Linked DNA regions of Homo sapiens. The protein of the gene in region 1 purifies or fractionates together with the protein of each later gene. This does not show direct contact. Each region holds a gene or a part of one and is shown in the gene's direction. Other genes may lie near its edges. The genes, in order: PTH2 and AMD1.

Evidence for each region.
Region 2: the proteins of PTH2 (region 1) and AMD1 purify together in Homo sapiens (affinity purification with mass spectrometry; 2 studies listed by BioGRID and IntAct, with this or other methods). This does not show direct contact.

What each region holds. Positions count from the first base shown.
Region 1 is NC_000019.10:49,421,721-49,428,281, reverse strand, and holds PTH2 (tuberoinfundibular peptide of 39 residues preproprotein), read left to right. Parts: upstream 1-4,840; 5' UTR 4,841-4,942; coding exon 4,943-5,070; intron 5,071-5,639; coding exon 5,640-5,814; 3' UTR 5,815-5,863; downstream 5,864-6,561. Other genes in the region: GFY (Golgi-associated olfactory signaling regulator precursor), read right to left, coding at 163-336, 669-1,851. UniProt on the Homo sapiens protein: Plays a role as a potent and selective agonist of PTH2R resulting in adenyl cyclase activation and intracellular calcium levels elevation. Induces protein kinase C beta activation, recruitment of beta-arrestin and PTH2R internalization.
Region 2 is NC_000006.12:110,891,750-110,896,465, forward strand, and holds the end of AMD1 (S-adenosylmethionine decarboxylase proenzyme), read left to right. Parts: intron 1-411; coding exon 412-454; intron 455-549; coding exon 550-694; intron 695-985; coding exon 986-1,078; intron 1,079-1,160; coding exon 1,161-1,316; intron 1,317-1,726; coding exon 1,727-1,867; 3' UTR 1,868-3,964; downstream 3,965-4,716.

The sequences.
Region 1 (6,561 bases):
GGTGAAATTGCAGACATTTAGGGGGCTGGACGTTGCCATGGAAGAGCCAGGGCTTTCATTGACCTTGGGTGGGGGACCTGTGCTTTTTTGGCTGGCGCCCTGTAGTGCCGGGAGAGACCAGGTTATGGAAAAGTGCAGGCATTCAAGGGGCAGGGCGCTCACCCGGTTCATCTCCGTCGTCCGGAAGCCGGTGATGTGCGAAGGGCCGCTGTCTAGCTGCCCGGCGGTAAAGACACCACAGCAGCACAAAGATGCCGATCAGCAGCGCGGTCCCCGCGAAGAACAGGCAGAGGGCCCCGCCTGCTGCGCCACGTGGTCGCCCCACCAGAGTCACGCCTGAAGGGGGATACCAGCAATCTAAGCTCCTAACCCCCTCCTCTCTCAGACCCAGGGGTCCAAGCTCCTAGCCCCTCCTCCCTCAGATCCAGGAATTCCTGTTCCCAAACCCTTCTCCCTCAGACCCAGGAGTCCAGACCCCAGCCGGTCCTCCCTCGCACCCAGGAGTCCAGGCCCCCAGCCCCTCCTCCCTCGGACCCAGGAGTCCAGGCCCCCAGCCCCTCCTCCCTCGCACCCAGGAGTCCAGGCCCCCAGCCCCTCCTCCCTCGGACCCAGGAGTCCAGGCCCCCAGCCCCTCCCTCAGACTCAGGAGTCCGGCTCCTGCCCCTCACCGGTCTCCTTCACTCGCTCCACCACGATGATGGTGTTGACTCCCTCACCTCGGCTGTGCCTCTGGGGTGCCCGCAGAGTGGCAGGGGCCAACTGACTGGGGCGCCCTGGAAGAGCAGGGGGACCTGCAATCCGGGCTGAGGGAGGAGGGACGTTGGACTCCTTAGGGCCAGAGTTCTGGGGGGCCTTCAGCTCAACCATTCCTGGAGAATCTGAAGTGGGCAATTTTGGGGAGTCGGGCTGGATGGCTGCAGGTGTTCCTGGTTTGGGATTCAGGGACAGCTCATTTAGAGCAGTGGCGTCATCCTTGAAGGGCACAGGTGTTTCTGGGTAGAGACTAGTGGAGATTTGAGGGTCGGAGGTCCTGGGTACATCTGTTGCATTTTGGTAGTAGGTTGTGGGGAATTCTGTTTGGGAAATTTCGGTGGGGCTGGGATTGTGGGTCACATGGGATTCTGGGTGGGGGGTTTTAGAAGGGTCAGGATGGAGAGCTTGGAGAAATTCAGAGTTTGGGGTCTCAGTGGAGTTGAGGTCATGCTTTTCTGGGGATTTGGGGTCAGGGGTCTTGGTAGGGTTAGTGTTTGAGGTCTCGGGGAGTTCTGCCTGTGAGACTTCAGTGGCATTAAGCTGCAGAATCTCTGGGGATTCTTGGGGTGTAGTTTGCATAAGGTCAGTGTTTGGGGTCTCAGGAAATTCTGGGCGTGAAGTTTTGGAGAAGTTAGGTTTGGGGGTCTCAGGGGATCCTGGGTGTGGCATTTCAGTTGGGCCAGGTGTGGGGGTCTCAGAAGACTCTGGGTGTGCCATTTTGGAGAGGTTAGTTTTGGGCATGTCCAGGGATTCTGATATTGAGGTTGTGAGTGAGTCAGCTTTGGGGGTCTCAGGAGACTCTGGGTGCGGGGTTTCTCGGAGGTCAGGGTTGAGGGGCTCAGTGAAGTCAAGTGGGAAGGTTTCCAGGGAAACCGTATGAGGTAGCTTGGAAGGCTCAGGGTAAGGAGTCCCAGGAAATTCTGGGTTAAGGCGATCTCGTTTGGAATTTTCAGAAGCACCCTTCAGAGGGGAAGTCTCAGAGGGGTGGGCCATGTCCGGAAAGCCACAGCCCAAAGGCAGAGGGGCTGAGGGAGCGGCCTTGGACCTCAGGCCGGCGAGGAGGAAGACGAGGAAGAGGATCCGGCTGAATGATTTCATAGCTCTGGCAGATACCTATAGCTGCGGGGGAGAGCGGGAAGGAAGGGGTTAAGGCCGAAGGCTCCCAGGAGCCCCGCCCACTCCCGGAGGCCACGCCCACTGGAACACAGGTGGACCACGTCTGTCCGGGGCCCAGCTTGGCGCCAGGGATGGGAAGAGAACCCAATCGCAAGTCCCTTGGAGGCTTGTGGGGCGATGGCCCAGGTAGCCAAGAGAGACTGAGGCGCGGGGCTACTTGGGAGTCGTAGTTAATTTCCTTATCTGTTTCAGCGAGGGGTCCTAGAAAAATTGGGAAAGAACGACACTTCTCCAGGCCTCAGATCTCCTCGACTTCGACTTTAGGGAGTGTCAGGGCTTCGAGGGGACGTGGGATCTCCTTCCTCTCCGAGGTCCCCCGGGACACCTTGACTCAACAGTTGTTTACACTACAGGAGGCTCCTAACGGCTGAGGGCTGGACTCATGGATTTGAGGGAGGAGGGAGACATTTGGGCTCTGGGTTAAGAAGGTTGCTGGGGGTTCAGACTCCTGCGTCTTGCAGGGTGAGGGGGCTGAGGTTCCTGGCTCCTGGTTCTTTAGAGAGGAGAAGGCTGGAAGTTCAGGTGCCTAGAATTTTGAGGGAGCAAGGTTTGGGGGCTGGATTGCAGGGGTGAAAGGAGATAAGAGGCCTTGAGCTCTTGGTTCCTGAGTTAGAAAGGAATTGGGAGCTCTGAGTCCTCCAGAAATAGGGTCTGGGGTCTGGGCTCTGCAGAGTAGAGGGGTAGGGACTTGAAGAAGAGAGCTTTGGGGCAGGACTCTCAAGTCTGTTATTGAAGATGGAGCTAGGATTTCGGCATCTCCGGGGCCAGTCTGGGCAGAGAAGCATAGGTCTGTGTTCAGGTGGAGGTGGAGGCGGCCGACACATCGATGGGACAGGCTTACTTGAGGTCCTGGGGTCTCTTACCTGCTCTGGTGTCCAAGGTAACAGCAGATAAGCAGAGCTGGATGCAGAGAACGGTGAATGTTGCAGAACAGATCTGGGCAGGGCGGTGGGAGGTAGGGTCTCAGGGGCACACAGGTGACGCACCTCACCCCCTCCCAGGGGATCCTGGGAGCCTAGCGACAGACTTAGACTCTTAAAGGGACAGAAGTAAAGGACATTTTCTCTGGGGTGGGGAAGGGAGTTAGAAACTGGATTGATCTAGTGGAGATGTGGCCCAAATTATTTTTTTGAAACCAGTGGTCCTGGCCCTCTACCCTCTCCTACCTGAAAACCCAGGGGTCTAGTTCCCTGGTACCTTCCTATTTCAAGTCCCCTAAGTTGTATCCCCCAGCTCCCTCCCCCCAGACTCAGAACTCCAGTCCTCTAGCTCCTTCCTTCCTCAGATTCAGGAATCCAAGTCCCCAGCCTCCTCCTTCCCCAGAACATAGGAATCTGGGTCCCTGTCCCATCCACTCTTAGACTCAGGAGTCCAAGCTTCTGCCACCACCTTCCTAGGAAACTAGGAGCCCAAGTTCCCACATCCCAAGTTTCTACTGCTCTGTAGGACTTCCAAGTTTTGCCCATCTTCTCCTCACTGTGTATAAAGGCCCCTCTTTTTAAATTTTTTTTTTTTTTTGAGACAGAGTCTCACTCTGTTGCCCAGGCTGGAGTGCAGTGGTGCGATCTCAGCTCACTGCAACCTCCCTCTCCCAGGTTCAAGCGATTTTCCTGCCTCAGCCTCCCAAGTAGCTGGGATTACACCACACCTAATTTATGTATTTTTGTAGAGAAGGAGTTTCGCCATGTTGGCCAGTCTGGTCTCGAACTCCTGACCTCAAGTGATCCACCCACCACGGCCTTCCAAAGTGCTGGGATTACAGGCATGAGCCACAGCACCCGGCTGAGGCCCCTCTTAAGAGTCAGTGTGGACTGGGTGTGCTGGCTCACGCCTGTAATCCCAACACTCTGGGAGGCCAAGGAGGGCAGATCACAAGGTCAGGAGTTCAAGACCAGCCTGGCCAACAGTTTGGCGAAACCCTATCTCTACTAAAAATACAAAAATTAGCTGGGCGTGATGGTGGGCACCTGTAATCCCAGCTACTCGGGAGGCTGAGGCAGGACAATGGCTTGAACCTGGGAGGTGGAGGTTGCAGTGAGCCGAGATAGTGCCATTGCACTCCAGCCTGGGCAACAAGAGCAAGACTCCATCTCAAACAGACAAACACACACACACAAAAAGAGTCAGTGTGAGGAGGACTGGGCTTTAATCTTCACAGCACCCCCAAACTCCTCCCAGATAAGGGCTTAGACACATCCTTAGGGCAGCTCAGGAGCCCTGTCTGTTTTCCCCTCTTCTCACTCTCTGAGGTTTTTCTGATGTGGTCTGTCACTTTTCCTGTCCTCACACCCCTGCCACACGTACCCTTTGCCATTTCTTGCCTTTCCCCCCTCCCTACCTCACCCTCGATCTTTCTGGGCCTCTCGCTGCTGTATTTATCTCTGGGCAGCTCCTTCCAGACCAGGACGTCCTTCCATTTCCGTCTGTCTTTCTGAGAGCCTTTTCTTTCCCTCCTCCATCTCCATCTGACTGTTCGTTTCCATCTCCTTCGCTCTCTTTTCTTGTTTTCTTCCTTTTCCTTTCTTTTTCTGTCGTTCCCATTCTTTCTCTCTATTTCTTCCTCGGCCACTCTGTCTTTGTCCTTCTCTTTGTGTCTCTGTTCCTCTGACGGTCCTTCCGCCAGTCTCTATTTTTAGCCCTCTGACACACCCCCTGTGTCCACCTCTCTGTCTGTCTGTCTCTCCCCCTCCCTCGTCTCAGGTCCAGCTTCTGGTCCCAATTAGTTGGTGGCGGCCAAGGCAGCGGCAGGTCCCCCACCCCCGGCTCCTCATTACCGCTGGCGGCTCCTAATGAGCCTGGGGAGGGGGTGACCCCGCGTCCCCGGCCCCCCGGCCTGCGTCACTGCCCGGTGCGGGGGCTGCGGAGGCGATATAAGGGGGCTGCCACCATCGCTGCCCCAGCCCACTGCACGGTAGGGGACTGTGCGGGAAGCTGGGGGTGGATGCATGGTGGGGCCCGGGGTTCTGGGCCGGGATGCAGCCCTACTGAGCCCCTTTCTGGTTCTCCACAGGTGATGGAGACCCGCCAGGTGTCCAGGAGCCCTCGGGTTCGGCTGCTGCTGCTGCTGCTGCTGCTGCTGGTGGTGCCCTGGGGCGTCCGCACTGCCTCGGGAGTCGCCCTGCCCCCGGTCGGGGTCCTCAGGTAGGTGCCAGTCCCAGAACTCCCAGGGAGGGGTGGGAACTTGGAGAAGTGGGAAGAGAACCAAAGAGAAAGGGGACGGAAGATCCAGAAAGCGGAACAGAAGCCCAAAGAGAGGGCGACCGAGACCCAGCGAGAAGACAGAGACTAGGGGTGGGGGAAGGCGGGAGGAGGGTTTGGTGGTAGTGGTGGTGCGGGAAATGGACAGAAAATCAGCAAGGGAAAGAGACACAGAAAGATAGATCCCGAGAAAGGCGTGGAGAGGCTCGAAAGGAGTCGTTGCAGAAACGGATTCATTCTTTGAGCAACGTTTATTGGGTTCTTGGTGTGCGCCTGGCCATGCGCTGAGCGCTGTGGGCGGACAAGTGCATCAGACTCGGTCTCAGTACCTGGGGAGTTTCGAACCTGGTGAGCAGAGAGACAGAGACCCACACAGAGAACGAGAGAGACAGGGGGAGCCGGACCGAGCCACTCCACGGACTGGGCAGTAACGGGGCTTCGAGTTAGACCGCGGGGAGGACAGGCGGCGGCAAGAGCGAGTCTGGACGCGCGGTCACCGCGTCTCTCCACAGCCTCCGCCCCCCAGGACGGGCCTGGGCGGATCCCGCCACCCCCAGGCCGCGGAGGAGCCTGGCGCTGGCGGACGACGCGGCCTTCCGGGAGCGCGCGCGGTTGCTGGCCGCCCTCGAGCGCCGCCACTGGCTGAACTCGTACATGCACAAGCTGCTGGTGTTGGATGCGCCCTGAGCGCGCTGCCCGTCCCCATCTTAATAAAGACCATGCCCTGCGCTCCGGACTGCGCCTAGTTCCTGCGCGACCTGCGTGTGCGTTGGGTTGGGGGCGCGGGGCTTGAAATGGGGGGTAGAAAAGAGACAGGACTCTGTGTCGGCCACTCTGGCATCTCTCTCCTCAGTCCCCACTCTATTTTCTTTCCTCAATTCCGTTTCTCTCTGCCTGTCTTTGTCCAGGAAGCTGGCTTCTTTCCTATTTCTGGATCTCTGCTTCCCTATCGCCCCCACCCCCCCGCCCCCTCCTTTCATTCTGGGCCCCTGTCCCTCCCTACCCCCATCTCTGTCCCCTTCTCTCTGGTTCTCTGTAATCTCCAAGGTCTCTGTCCTCCTCCGTCTCTGTCCCTTTCTCTGGGTCTCTTTCCTCTCTGGGTATGTGTCCCCGTCTCCCTGGGTCCTTGTGGTTATCTCCCCTTTCACCCTTTTGGCTTTCTGGTCTTCTGGGAATCTCTGCCTCCTCTCTCTATTCTCCTTCTGCCTCTGAAACTCTTCCTTCCCTTCTCCATCACTTTCTTTTTTCCTTTTTCCTCTGCCTGACTCCTTCATATCTTCCTTTTCTTTCCTCCGTTAGGTTTCTATCTGTCTCTCCATCAGCTCTCATCTTTGAATTTCGCTGTTCCTCCCTCCCATCACTTCCAGACTTCTCCCCAGGCACAGTGGAAAGATCGCGGGCTCTGGTGTGAGGCAGCCCTAGCATCCAAACCCA
Region 2 (4,716 bases), on another chromosome or scaffold:
TCTTTTTTCTTGAGATGGCGTCTCGCTTTGTCACCCAGGCTGGAGTGGAGTGGCGTGATCTTGGCTCACTGCAACCTCCGCCTCCCGGGTTCAAGCAGTTCTCCTGCCTCAGCCTCCCAAGTAGCTGGGATTATAGGCATGTGCCAACACGCCCAGCTACTTTTTGTATTTTTAGTAGCGATGGGGTTTCATCATGTTGGCCAGGCTCGAACTCTTGACCTCAAGCCCACCTCTGCCTCCCTGCCAAAAGGGGTGGGATTATAGACATGAGCTACTATGCCCAGTCCACTGATGGATGACATTTCTAATAAGTGGCAAATAGTATCATTCTGCTTATTGTGGAAGGGTAGTAACAAACCATCCTATTAAATGGATGTGTTATATTTATTTTGCGTTCTCTTCCCTCAACAGATGGAGCAGCATATTGTATGGGACGTATGAATTCTGACTGTTGGTATGTTTAATGCAATTTTGTGGATTTTTGTTGTCCTATGTAAGATTTAAACTGCCAATTGTCATTTTTAGGAACTATTTTTAATTTTTATTTAGGTACTTATATACTCTGGATTTCCCAGAGAGTCGGGTAATCAGTCAGCCAGATCAAACCTTGGAAATTCTGATGAGTGAGCTTGACCCAGCAGTTATGGACCAGTTCTACATGAAAGATGGTGTTACTGCAAAGGATGTCACTCGTGTAAGCATTTTTAGTAATAATTGTTGCTGGACTCTTCTGCGTGGGGACTAAATTTTATTTTTCATTCTGTAACTTTTAAGTTCAGGGTAACAAGTGCTAGTTTGTTACATAGGTAAACTTGTGTCATGGGGGTTTGTCGTACACAGTATTTCGTCACCCAGGTGTTAAGCCTAGTACCCATTAGTTATTTTTCCTGGTCCTCTCCCTTCTCCCACCCTGGGACTAAATTTTGGACTCAATTGAAGTTTATTTGTCAAACCCTTGTTAAACTCGGTCTTTTTCCCCCCCCAGGAGAGTGGAATTCGTGACCTGATACCAGGTTCTGTCATTGATGCCACAATGTTCAATCCTTGTGGGTATTCGATGAATGGAATGAAATCGGATGTGAGTAGTTATATATTGCTTCAATAATTATTTAAATGTGAATAGTCTTTCCATTCTTAACACTGTGAACTTTTTCTCTCAGGGAACTTATTGGACTATTCACATCACTCCAGAACCAGAATTTTCTTATGTTAGCTTTGAAACAAACTTAAGTCAGACCTCCTATGATGACCTGATCAGGAAAGTTGTAGAAGTCTTCAAGCCAGGAAAATTTGTGACCACCTTGTTTGTTAATCAGGTAATTTTATATTTTATTATTAATCAGGTTATTTGATTTTTAAAATCTTAAAGGAAATGAGACAGTGAGGCCTAAGATGTATTCTGAGATAGCACATATACCAGCCACTCAGATATCCAGAAGTAATATTGTTTGAGGTTACTGGTAGCTGAGAAGCTTTGTTTCATTAGACCTGTGTCAGTCCTTGTTTTCTGTCTAGCCAAACTGATGGGTTCCTCCTGTCTTGCTATTGACAGGCCTCTGGTGGGAGGAACCATAAGATGCCCTGGCCCCTCCAGCACATAAGAAGGCAGCTAAAATAACTCAGATGTCTTAGTTTCATTAAGATAAAAGTCTGTCACTTAACTGTTTTGGTTGAAAATACTTCTCTGGATTGCAAACACTAACGGTTATTTAATTTTTTCCCCCAGAGTTCTAAATGTCGCACAGTGCTTGCTTCGCCCCAGAAGATTGAAGGTTTTAAGCGTCTTGATTGCCAGAGTGCTATGTTCAATGATTACAATTTTGTTTTTACCAGTTTTGCTAAGAAGCAGCAACAACAGCAGAGTTGATTAAGAAAAATGAAGAAAAAACGCAAAAAGAGAACACATGTAGAAGGTGGTGGATGCTTTCTAGATGTCGATGCTGGGGGCAGTGCTTTCCATAACCACCACTGTGTAGTTGCAGAAAGCCCTAGATGTAATGATAGTGTAATCATTTTGAATTGTATGCATTATTATATCAAGGAGTTAGATATCTTGCATGAATGCTCTCTTCTGTGTTTAGGTATTCTCTGCCACTCTTGCTGTGAAATTGAAGTGCATGTAGAAAAAACCTTTTACTATATGAAACTTTACAACACTTGTGAAAGCAACTCAATTTGGTTTATGCACAGTGTAATATTTCTCCAAGTATCATCCAAAATTCCCCACAGACAAGGCTTTCGTCCTCATTAGGTGTTGGCCTCAGCCTAACCCTCTAGGACTGTTCTATTAAATTGCTGCCAGAATTTTACATCCAGTTACCTCCACTTTCTAGAACATATTCTTTACTAATGTTATTGAAACCAATTTCTACTTCATACTGATGTTTTTGGAAACAGCAATTAAAGTTTTTCTTCCATGAGTTGAGTCCTTAAGAAAATGATTCCAGTTACTCATTTTGCATATTTGCTATTTTAACATTATTGGACCCTGCATTTATAGTCCTTTGATTTCTTCCCTCTCCCTGGTGTCTCCCCCAAGACCCCAAATAAAGCAATACACTGTTAACACTGTGGGTTTATATACTAATTCTATACCCCAGATGGGGAATGGGGGAGATGGTCCCTGGGCTTAATATTCTTTAAAGGGCATGGGAATTTAGCCTCTCTTTTATTGTAATGTGCTCTTTTGGAAAATAGTTGGTTAGCAGGGAAGACCCAGAGTTGTAGATTGAGATTAGGGTGTACTGGCTGAACTGTGGAAAACATACAATTCTGTGTTCCTCAGTAAATGAGATTAGCGTCTAATGAGTAGCACCCCTTTACTAACTTAGTAGTAGTATAAAATCATTTTTATTTAGTTAATTACCAGAGAGATTTAGCATAATTTTGTTCTGGATTCAGTAAATCAAGTCAGCTTGGATCATTCACCTTAACTTTTCCTTTAGCAGCCATTTCCACTAGTTTCCATTAAGTAGTGTTCTATAAACTTTGATCCAAAGCAGAATCAATGTCTTTTCCATCTCGTGACTTAAAGTTCTGTGACTGTGATGCATGTGAGTGTTCCGACTTCATCTGTTCCTCTTAACTACGGTGTTTCCCTTACCATGGCATTCATAGGATGAAATGAATGACTGCCCAGAATGAGAATTTGTCCAGATTATTCAGATAAACATCATAAAGCAGAATACATTATAAATAAGTAGAATATGAATAAATAGAATAATAAAATTCCAAAATACTCAATGGGAAATGACTAGTAATATAGGCTTTCAAGAGTTGGTACCTTTTAGCTATATTTGCAGATTCTCTGGGATTTTAAGGAACTGAGAAAACAGCAAAGTTGACTAAATTTTATATTTCTTGTCCTCTAAATATTTTGATAATTTCTGGATTGATGCAGTGATGTTTTTGTTCCTTCCGTATTTATAAATGAAACACCTTTTTTTAGTGTTTCTAAACCTAAAATCTACTTGGTTTGAAATCAAGTGGTTGGAACACTGTTTGACTTTTATTTGAAGCATGTTGTTGATTGAAAATTTCATTGAGGAAGTTTTCAATCAGTGTGATCAGTTTGATTCTGTAATGAGCACAGCACCTAATATTTTGAGGAGCTCTGTTTTGAGGACCAATGCTTAAGGTGGACTTTGTTCGTAAACAATATCCCAATAGATTTGTTGACTTGAGGTCTGGTTTGGTTTTGTTTTTGTTTTGTTTTGTTTTGTTTTGTTTCCAATAGAATTAAGAATTCTAATGTTGAAAAACTGCACAAATTTTTATGGGACAAAGCCTAGAAAAGAGAAATGTAGTTTGAATCATAATCTAAATCATCGTATGATAGAAGAGGGAAAGTTTTGGTGCCATAATTTCTCCTTTCACTGGTGTTGGACTTAAATCAGTTGAAATGTATTTCTGTACCACAATTTACGCTTCAATAAAAGTTTAATTGTCTAGTGACATTCAGAAACTTTTCTGTTGCCCTGTTTTTTAAGTAGCCTACTTGACCAAATACTACATGTCTGAAGTTTAAAATCAATACAACAATGTGTATTTATGAGTTTGGAGTTAGACAGAAGTTTAAAAGTGTTAGGTCCCAACCTTTATTATAGACTAGACTCTTAAAACATTGGTTGAGGATGATCAAACTCAAATAAGTTTCCTTATTTCATTCATGGTTATTTCTATTAAGTAGAAAAAAATTTATAACCTTGATCATTTTCTTTATTTTTTTTAATTTAGGATCTTGTTCTGTTGTCTAGGCTGGAGTGCCGTGGCTGTTAACAGGTGCGATCATAGCATACTGCTTCCTTGAACTCCTAGGCTCAAGCAGTCTTGCTGCAGCTTCCCAAGTAGCTGGGAATGCAGGGTTCTGCCATCACACTTGGCTTTGTCATTTTCTTTATTTGGCAACATTTTAGTTCCACAGTCAAATATGTAATAAGCTGAAAAATCTTATGAAAATGTATATTCTGATCTTTCTCAGAATATGCTTCCGTTAGAAAATATTTCCTCAATTTTCATTAAAAACAGATGGTGTTCCTAGAAAAGCAAAATATTACATATCTGTGCAATATGTAATTCACAAGATTCATTTGCCAAAAACAGGTGAGTGAATTTGGGGGTTCATTAGTAAGCAGTCACCAAGTTTCTGTCACAGACACATAACTGGAAATGTGATTTTATTCTCCTGGATGGACAATTGTGATGGATTTTTTGGGT